2 separate regions of the Homo sapiens genome follow, and region 2 is linked to region 1. The links come from fine-mapping of genetic effects on plasma protein levels. A gene starts in region 1. The other region holds a variant in brackets. All regions are shown on one strand. Distances are between the middles of the regions. Region 1 holds the start of CD38 (CD38 molecule). Region 2 holds the start of LOC107986186 (a long non-coding RNA gene).

Evidence for each region. A credible set is the group of variants that fine-mapping cannot tell apart. PIP is the chance, under the fine-mapping model, that this variant and not a neighbour inherited with it causes the effect. The UK Biobank Pharma Proteomics Project read protein levels with antibody pairs (Olink). The fine-mapping took linkage between variants from a reference panel, not from the people measured, so its PIPs are less certain.
Region 2: its variant is the best candidate, but not a certain one, in a credible set for the plasma level of the CD38 protein (UK Biobank, PIP 0.57).

What each region holds. Positions count from the first base shown.
Region 1 is chr4:15,775,798-15,781,183 of GRCh38, forward strand. It overlaps CD38 (CD38 molecule), which reads left to right and starts at 2,531. Exons shown (of 8, transcript NM_001775.4): 1 at 2,531-2,850. The coding sequence starts at 2,618. RefSeq lists enhancers at 2,316-2,958, 2,370-2,869 and silencers at 3,000-3,049, 3,240-3,289.
Region 2 is chr4:15,751,352-15,756,737 of GRCh38, forward strand. It overlaps LOC107986186 (a long non-coding RNA gene), which reads right to left and starts at 5,075. Exons shown (of 2, transcript XR_001741393.2): 1 at 4,973-5,075; 2 at 2,720-3,190. It also overlaps a transcript of BST1 not described here. The variant T/C (reference allele first, on the strand shown) is at 2,931.

The DNA of each region.
Region 1 (5,386 bases):
CCAGATTGATCCTTTAAAATAATATGCCAGATCAAGTCATTTGGTGACTTGTATGGGTAAAAATAAAATGCACACGAATGGGTTAAAAATAAAATCCAAAAACAGGCACATAGACCAATGAAACAGAATAGAGATCTCAGAAATAAGACTCACATCTACAACCATCTGATCTTTGACAGACCTGACAAAAACAAGCAATGGGGAAAGGATTCCCTATTTAATAAATGGTGCTGGGAAAACTGGCTAGCTATACGCAGAAAATTGAAACTGGATCCCTTCCTTACACCTTTTTCAAAAATTAACTCAAGATGGATTAAAGATTTAAAATGTAAAACCCAAAACTATAAAAACCCTAGAAGAAAATCTAGGCAATACCATTCAGGACATAGGCATGGGCAAAGATTTCATAATGAAAATGTCAAAAGCAATTCCAACAAAAGCGAAAATGACAAATGGGATCCAATTAAACTCAGGAACTTCTGCACACCGAAAGAAACTATAATCAGGGTGAACAGACAACCTACAGCATGGGAGAACATTTTCAAAATCTATCCATCTGACAAAGGTCTAATATCCAGAATCTACAAGGAACTTAAACTAATTTATAAGAAATAAACAACCCCATTAAAAAGTGGGCAAAGGACATGAACAGATATTTCTCAAAAGAAGACATTTATATAGCCAACAAACATATGAAAAAAAGCTCAACATCATTGATCATTAGAAAAATGCAAACCAAAACCACAATGAAATATCATCTCATGCCAGTCAGAATGGTGATCATTAAAAAGTCAATAAACAACAGATGCTGGTGAGGTTGTGGAGAAATAGGAACACTTACACTGTTGATGGGAGTGTAAATTAGTTCAACCATTGTGGAAGACAGTATGGGGATTCCTCAAAGATCTAGAACCAGAAATACCATTTGACCCAGCAATCTCATTACTGGGTATATACCCAAAGGAATATAAATCATTCTGTTATAAAGATACATGCATGCATATGTTCATTGTAGCACTATTCACAATAGCAATGACATGGAATCAACCCAAATGCCCATCAATGACAGACTGGATAAAGACAATGTGGTACATATACACCAGGGAATACTGTGCAGCCACAAAAAGGAACGAGATCATGTCCTTTGCAGGGACATGGATGGAGCTGGAAGCCATTATCCTCAGCAAACTAACACAGGAACAGAAAACCAAGCACTGCATGTTCTCACTTATAAGTGGGAGCTGAACAATGAACACAGGGAGGGGAACAACACACACTGGGGCCTGTTGGGGAGAGTGGAGGGAGGGAGAGCATCAGAAAGAATAGCTAAAACATGAGGGGCTTAATACCTAAGCAATGGATTGATAGGTGCAGCAAACCACCATGGCACACATTTACCTATGTAACAACTCTGCACGTCCTGTACATGTATCCCAGAACTTAAAACAAAATAAAAAAGATAAAAAATAAATAAAACACACAGTCCAAAAAGTCATCCTGTCTTACAGAGCTATGGGTGATCTGGTCTCCTGCTACTTTCCGAACTTCTGTTCTGTTTCCCTCAACCCTCTAGCCTAACTACAATTGGCCTCCTTGCTGCTCTGGAACAGGCCAAGAGCTTTTCTGCCTCAGAGTCTTTGCACCTGCCATTTCCTCTGCTTGGGAAATGTTTGCCCCAAGGGAGTTGGGTGACTTGATCGCTCACATTACTTAGGTCTCTGCTTGAATGTCACAGATGTTCTCTTAATAAAGAAGAGGCAAGAAAAGCCACTTTATTATTTATTAAACTCCCGCATAGAGTGCAGTATTATTACTGTGTGCCAGACCCTGCTTCAAACACATTCCATGGACTATAAAATTGCATCTCTGAGCAGCTCCTAGAGCTGGTAGTAACAACTTACATTTACTGGGTGATTACCATGTGCCAGGTATTGTGCTAAACACGTTGTAGATATTAACTCACTTAATCCTCGTAACAATCCCATGAAGTAGGTACTGCTACTATCCCGGCTTTACATCTGAAGTACAGAGAGGTTAAGTAACTTGCCCCATGTCATCCAGCAAGAACTAAATTTGAACCCAGAGCTTAGCCACTGATGCCTCTTGAGAGAAGGAGTCAGACTTAAGTTGAGTCTTTAAAGGTGGTTGACCAGGCATTTGTCAGAGTTAAGAAAGAGAGGTAGGACATCCTTTTCCAGGCAGAGGGCATTGTGTGCACACACGTATAGAAGCAGGCAGCCCACCCTCATGCTTTCCAGGAAGCAAATGTGGCTCAGGTGTAAAGTGCCCGGTTGATGAAGGGAGTTAGCGGAGGGAGTATAAGGATGTACTGTCTGCCCCCTTAGGACACCTGCAGAGGATTAAGGTGGCTGTTTCTCCCTGGAGGTGGAGTGGGTGGGTCACTGCACAGGAGCCTATAGTTGTTGGTCTTTTAAACTCTTATTGGTGTAACCAGCCACGGAACTCTGAGGCAAGGGGTTGGGGGTGGGAAGGGAAACAGAGAAAAGGCAAGTGAAACAGAAGGGGAGGTGCAGTTTCAGAACCCAGCCAGCCTCTCTCTTGCTGCCTAGCCTCCTGCCGGCCTCATCTTCGCCCAGCCAACCCCGCCTGGAGCCCTATGGCCAACTGCGAGTTCAGCCCGGTGTCCGGGGACAAACCCTGCTGCCGGCTCTCTAGGAGAGCCCAACTCTGTCTTGGCGTCAGTATCCTGGTCCTGATCCTCGTCGTGGTGCTCGCGGTGGTCGTCCCGAGGTGGCGCCAGCAGTGGAGCGGTCCGGGCACCACCAAGCGCTTTCCCGAGACCGTCCTGGCGCGATGCGTCAAGTACACTGAAATTCATCCTGAGATGAGGTGGGTTGGCGACTAAGGCGCACCGGTGGGCACTGCGGGGACAGCAGGGCCCCGCGCGCAGGGAAGCCGCCCGGATCGCCCGGAACCGGGCATCTTCCGTGGCGGGTCAGCCGAGAGCCCGCCGGGTGGTGCTGAGTAGGGAGTCCCGGGCTCGGGGCTCCGCGGGCCGCTTTCAGGAGCAGCTGGCCTTGGCACCGAGCGTGCCCGCGGGAGGCGGGGGGGGGCGCTGCTCGGTGGCTCTGCTGCGTAGCCGGTGAACACTTGGCACCGATGCCCGCCTTCTGGGCAAGGTGCCCTGAGCCCAGCCCCTCGCCGGGCTGCAGCCCACCCTCGGCGCGCTCAGCCCGCTTCACCGCTTCAGGGACGGAATAGAACTCGCAGATGCAGGGTGTCGCTGACATTTTCAACTTTTTCTGCGGTTTCCGCCCGCTGTCTCTGACCCGAAAGTGCCCCCGGACGGTTACAGAGGACACTTAAGTGGTTTGCAAAGCCTGTGGTAGGGGAGGAGGGTGTAGAAGGGCCAAACCACGGAACTTAGTTTTATTCATTTATATAAAGCAGCACTCCGATTCTTTTTGCGCGGCCTGAAATGCATGTGACCAGAGAAGTAATTAACAAAACAATGTCAACTTCTAAAACCGAGACATTACTTAGATGATAAGGCGCAGCAACTCGGTGAATCTGTACAAACCTTGGAAAAAAAACACATTAGTCTATGGGACCTTCCAGTTTTCTCATGCTCCTTTCCAGCTACTAACCTCTCCTAAAGGGAACAACCACTTTTTGGATTTGATTCCCAGGCCTCGCTTTCACCGGGAAATTATCGTTGCTTGTAAAACAGAAGAAGCCGGGAAGGCAGGCAGGGGGAGCTGCTACTTTACACTCTGTGCTTTGGGATAGCAAAATCCCGCATTTAAGCAATCCGAGGAAACGAGCAAATAGACCTCCCTCGCCTCTCCGAGCACACTCAACAGTTCCGGTTGCAAAATGTTTGCCTCCTGGGCTTCCCAGCGTCCCGTTAGTTGTTCTATTTACACATAATTAGATACTTAATGGAGAGAGAAACTAGAAGTTGAGGCGTTCCTCCAGGCTGTATTGTAAAGTATGAAGTGAAATCCAAAATGAAATGGTAATGTTAGAAAGCAACCTCATTAAAAAAAAAAAAAGTAACACTGGTCTTGAAGATCTTTCAATGTGAGTACATAAAGATCTATCTCATTTCTTTTGACAGCCCATAGTATTTCATAAACTAGATGTAACCATTTCCTATTGACAGGAAATTAGCTTGTTTCCAATTTTTCAATCCCATTCATTCATCCAACAAGTATCTGTTGAGCACCCACTATGTTCCAGACAGTGATCTAGCTACTGATGACACAAGAGTGAATGACGAAGTTCTCACTCATGAAATTTTCACCTTAGTTGGGAGAAACATGATGCAATGAAAATCTTCATACATACATTGTGTGTACATATGGGAGTATTTCTGTAGGATAGATTTCTAGTGATGAAACTGCTGAGTAAAAGGGAGAATTATGCATATTTTAAGTTTTGATTTTTCCAAATTCCAGGTATTCCATATATACTCCAAAATAGTTGTGCCATTTTACTCTCCCATCATCAGTCTATCAGAGGGGATGCTTTCCCACAATCTCTTGAATGCTGAATATTTTCAACTTTTTTACTTAAGAGAAAAAAGAGCATCTAATTGTTCCCTCAGTATCAGTGAGTCTAAGCATCTTGTATATGTTTATTTGCCATTTATATTTTTTTCTGTGATTTTCCTGTCCAGATACTTGATACTTTCTATTGAGCTGCTTATTTATTTCTTATGGGAGATTTTTATATATTTTAGATAATATTCTCTCTCTCACACACACACACACACACACACACACACACACACACACACACACACACATACAGTCTTACAGCCACATCCCTGAAATCTTGACCTTGTGAACATGTTTTACTGGCAGCACTCTGGACTCGATCATTGCCTTGAGACTATTTCTTTTTTGATATTCTTTGGAAAGACTAACAATGACAGTTTTATTTTCAAACCCAACAAATCCTGGCATGGAAATGTTTGCTCTTGATTCTGCTTTTAAAAAAATAAAGAATTATTTTCTCTCTTTCTTTCTGCACCTTATCAGAAACAGCTAAAAGAAGTGAGTTGGGCCAGGCACTGTGGCTCACACCTGTAATCCCAGCACTTTGGGAGGCCCAGGCAGGTGGATCACTTAAGGTCAGGAGTACAAGACCTGCCTGGCCAACATGCTGAAACTCCGTCTCTACTAAAAATACAAAATTAGCCGGGTGTTGTGGCGCGTGCCTGTAATCCCAGCTACTCTGGAGACTGAGGTGGGAGAATCGCTTGAACCCAGGAGGAGGAGGTAGCACTGAACCAAGATCCAGCCTGGCCAAGAGAGTAAGACTCCGTCTCAAAACCAAACCAAACCAAACCAAAAAAAGAAGTGAGTTGGCACTTTCAACATTCTGCCTGGAAATCTCCTTACCAAACCTATAAGATCAT
Region 2 (5,386 bases), 24 kb before region 1:
ATGACCACCATGGGCCAATGACTATGGCAAGCTGGGTTGACTATTACAATTGACTAGCTGTGATCAGGGAGGTGGTACCATGAAAGAAGACAGGTATTTTTATTCAGAAGAGGAAGAGAAGCAATTCCTCAAAAGAAAGGTAGCATTGGTCCATAAAGGGAGGGTGCTGGGAAGATTCAATACTCTTCCTACATAGTGGAGATCTAGATATATACATTATAGTCACTATTGTGTATACAGTGTATATAGATATACACTATATCTATGTATATAGATATATGTGTATACACTATATGTATATCTATAGATCTATATTTATATAGTATATGTATATCTTATAGATATACATAGATATAATGTATACATCCACATATAGTATGCACACATCTATGTATATATCTATGTATATACATCTATGTATAGATGTACTGTGTATAGTGTATATAAATATACACTGTAGTCACTATTTTCTTCATCTTAATATGCTTATGTCTCAGTCTCTTTTCTCATCACAGCACACAGAATCCAGCACTTCTCCTTTGTGTATTATAACAATTTATTTCTTGCAACAACTCATGGCAGTGGGAACGTGGCTCGTATAAGACTAGAAAATGAATTATTGCCGTTTTATAAACATGCTAAGGAGATTTAGTTTTGCACTGAAAGCAAAGGAAAACCATAAAAGATTAAAAAACTTTGACAAGAGAGGTGTATGATCAGATTTGTGCTTTGATCATTAATTCATTAAACAGCTATCATTGTGTGTTTATGAGTTCCAGGTGTTCTTCTAAGTTCTAGGATCTATTCAGTAAATGGGCAATTGTGCATATGTTCTTGTAGTGCACATTCTAGTGGGTGGAGATAATAAATAGCTTGTATAAGGAATAAATTGTATTTTCGAAGGTGATGCATGCTCCAGGAAATAATACAACATGGAAAGCTAGGCTGGGGCTATGGTTTTAAATGAGAAGTCTGGATAGGCCTCATTGAGAAGATGATGTTTAAACAAAGATTTGAAGGAGTGAAGGAATCAAGCTATTCTTTTTTTTTTTTTGAGACAGAGTTTCGCTCTTATTGCCCAGGCTGGAGTGCAATGGCGCAATCTCGGCTCACTGCAACCCCCGCCTCCCGGGTTCCAGTGATTCTCCTGCCTCAGCCTCCTGAGTAGCTGGGATTACAGGTATGTGCCACCATGCAGAGCTAATTTTGTATTTTTAGTAGAGACACGGTTTCTCCATGTTGGTCAGGCTGGTCTCAAACTCCTGACCTCAAGTGATCCACCTGCCTCAGCCTCCCAAGCCATTCTTATATCTATAGAATGAACATTTCAAGCAGAAGGAGCAGAAGCAAAGGCCCCGTGGTAGCCATGTGTCTGAACTATTTGAGGAACGGCAAGGAGGCCAGGATGGCAGGATCAAGGTGAGGGAAGAAAATAGGCCAGATCAGGTCAGGCCTTGCAGGCTATTTCACTGGCTTTTTTTGGAATGAGATGGAAAGCCAGTAAAGGCCCACTGGAGAGAGGCTTCTGGCCACTGCACATTGATGCTGGTTGATAATGTAAATAGTACATATAAATCACTAAGAAGATATAAATCACTAAGAAGATAAAGTGATTTACATATAAATCACTAAGAAATATTTAAATATAAATCACTAAGAAATATAAATATAAATCACTAAGAAATATTTAAATATAAATCACTAAGAAATATAAATATAAATCACTAAAAAATATTTAAATATAAATCACTAAGAAGATAAAGTGGCTGTCCTCTTAGCATTTCATCTGGCAATATATCACCCTCCATCTTCATCTCTCTGATATAAATGTCATATCCAAAATACAGCACGCTGCATTCTTCTTCTAAAATTTCAGATTAGATATGTTCCAGCCTCTGTCTAAGCTGTCTCTATCTCTGGGGCTCAGATATGTCAGAGCTGATAGCATGGGACTTTCAGAAGTCCATTTGTGGGAGGGATTTTTTCAGATAAAGGCGGTCTGGAAAAGGGAGAAGAATTAGAAGGTATCCATCGTATCTGTAGCAGAGATTTTTTATGTATGTGTGTGCTCCTGTGTATACATGTAGAAACCAAACATCCTGAATGGCTCACGATCGCGCCAGTGGGTGTCCTTTGTCCTTGCATAATTATTAGTAGCATCCCTCTCCATTAGGTGAGCCCTAAGGAGAAAGAGTAGGGTCTTTAAGAATGTTACGAGACACAGAGCCACAAACAGTATTGGGATAGGACCCAGCTCTCAAAGTGTGGCCCAGCCATGGCACAGCTGGAGGTTCGCAGAGATGGTGCCCACCAAAGGCAATGATGGGACATACATAAACTGCCTTGCAGGCAGGGAGAGTCCAAATCGGTCAGGGCCCATCCAGACACACAGATAGCACACTCAAATCAGGAAAATCGGAGGAGGTTTAATAGGGACTATCTGCAAACCATTGATGTGTACAGAGATGCACCAAGGCCTCACAGAGTGAGGCAACAGGGAGGTCATGGGAATCCGGAAGGAGAGAGTCCCATGGAGAGGTCATCTGGAGAAGAGCAGTGGCCTCTGTCAAGGAACCCAGTGGCCTGAGGCAACCCTGCAGGGAGGAAGCCAGCTGAGGGAATGGATAACCGGACCTCAGTCACCTTCCTTCCTTTGGGAGAGCCTCCTGGGGCTGGATCCAGGGCAGAGAGCCAAAGGGAGAGGCTGGAAGATCTGGAAGGCCAAGTGGGGGGGTGTGAGGCCACAGCTTCTTCGTGTGTATCATCAGTGGAGATTGAAAAGAGAGGAAAACCACGATGGAGGCCTGTGGGACTGTGGGCAGCTTTTTCAAGTGCAGATGTGATAATCCCCACGAAGACCCCCGGAAATATTGAGAGGGAGGCTCTTTGAAAGGGGATGGTGTTCTGCAGAACAATAGAGGCTTCATGAG[T/C]CGCTAAAGTAGAGGTTGTGAGGATTAGTGTGACCCCATTGTGAAAACTGGCCTAAAAGAACCCAAGGAAACAGGGGTATGTTGAGTTCAGGAACATTGCAGAATTTCCAGATGTTCTCTGAAGCATGCACATGTCTAAGATTGTCTCCTCTCTAAGGGTTGTGTGCAGTTTCTTACCTTCTGTGAGCTGGCTGTGAACTCAGTGCCCCTGGGTGGTAGCAGAAGCATGAATGCTGAGAGGAAGGATGTTGCTGTCAGCACTGTGTGGTTTTGAATGAGATAAAGAATCAACGTCAGATGTAGCTGCACACATACTTTATTTTGTTGAATTTCCAACTGATGAAGTATTTGATAAGCATGCCTGAAAAGATGGAAAAAACGGGCTCTTTCCCAGCGGTCCATTTTTGTAATTTAAGTACGTAGATTTGTTTTAGTTTACATTTGGTGATTTTTATGTTATTTCTGAAAAGGTAGTATATACACATGGCTTAAAAATAAAACACTATGAAAAAATCTCATTCCCACTCCTGTCCCCTGTTCTGGTCCCACACCTCTAATTCGGATGACCACTTGTTTAAAGTTCATGTAGATCTGTCTAGGGTTTCTTTGCACAAGCACATACAAATACATGTTATTACTCCCTACCTTTTCTTACACAAAAGGAAGCATTAAACACAAAATACTTTGTACTCCTTAATAGTACATCCTGGAGATTATTCTGTATCAATACATACAGAGATCCCTCACTTTATTTTTTACAGCTGCATAATATTCCATGGGAGAGATGTTTTGTAATTTATTTAACCCACCCCGTTAGGAACATCATTTAGGTTGTTTGCAATCAGTTTCTCTTTTTTTTATTTTTTTATTTTTTTGAGATGGAGTCTCACTCTGTCGCCCAGGCTGGAGTGCAGTAGTGCAATCTCAGCTCACTGCAACCTCCGCCTCCCAGGTTCAAGTGATTCTCCTGCCTCGGCCTCTTCAGTAGCTGGGATTACAGGTGTGCACCACCACGCCTGGCTAATTTTTGTATTTTTAGTAGAGATGGGGTTTCACCATGTTTGTCTGGCTGGTCTTGAACTCCTGACCTCTTGATCCGCCCGCCTTGGCCTCCCAAAGTTCTGGGATTACAGGCATGAGCCACCGTGCCTGGCGCCAGTTTCTCTTATAAACAATGCTGCAATGACTAATCTGGTATATTTATTATCTTTCATGTGGGCAGAGATATTTGTAGGTTGAATTCCTAGAAATGGGGTCAGTGAGTCAAAGAGTAAATGCATTTGCAATATTAATGTATTCATTCTTCACTGGATCTCTGTAGTTTAGCAATGAATTGAACAACTGCATATTATTTATGGGTGAAAAGCCCCAAAGAAAAAAGAAATGCTGAGTCCAGATGTCACCTTCAGTCAATGTAGAGTGGTGGTTACCACCAGTGATGAAGGTCTTAGAGTGTTTATGCATCTGTGAGTGTGTGAGTGTGTGCTCATTTGTGTACTCTGAAAACCCTATTTGAAAAAAAAAACTTAACCATTGGGTTATTAGACAGATAATCACTTCACTCCAATTTCAAATCAATGAGTTTCTTATTCCAGCTTATATTCCAATAGTCCAAAGCTTCCAGGGAATAAAGGTAAAACAATCTGAGAGCTCTGAGTTCCTCCACAGGGCAAGTACCATGTAAACTGATAGATGATGTTAAGGTTCTCAAGGTGGTGACTAAACAGTTCTCCCAGTCTCTGCAACATAAACATAAACTTAAAAATTACACTGTAAGCTAGATCTTCATTTTGAAAATAACCATGGAATTTGAAAAAATAAAACTGAAACAAACAAAACACACCACCATGAACAACAAAAACAACAACAAAACAAGGGGGAAAAACCGACTTTCTGGTGTTTTTGCTAAAAGACTGCAGGGTGGGTTGGGGGAAGCTCTTCTCATAAAAGAAAAGTACTAGACAATCTGGTCTTTTAAAGGGTCTTGAAAACAGATTATGCAGTAAAACTGAGCTGTCAAAGACCCTCAGAGATGGTCGTACCTGGCTAGTCCTATGAAGCGCCCAGCTAGAGGAGAGTTTTCTTTCTCATTTTCAATCGTGGTTTGTGGTTAAAGATGTGCATGCCAATGGCAGGTCTGGGGGTGAGATGTGTTTGAAAAAACGTTGAATTTATATTTGCAGTACCAGCCAGACTCAGGAAGTGACACTCAACCACATTTTCCTGACCTGGGTGGAGATTAGTTGAGAGTGTGTTTGATAGGTTAACACATGTTGAGAAACATTTTGACATAGGACGTGTTGCATATAACTAGTTTTATGAAGATGATGTCCTTAATGGGTATATCTTCTATGAATGACTCAGGTCATCATCATAGACTTGGGTTATTGTAACATCTAGCAGGTATGTTGCGCTGTGGAGAGCTGTTTTTCCCCCTAGCGGCCTCGGAGGGTGAG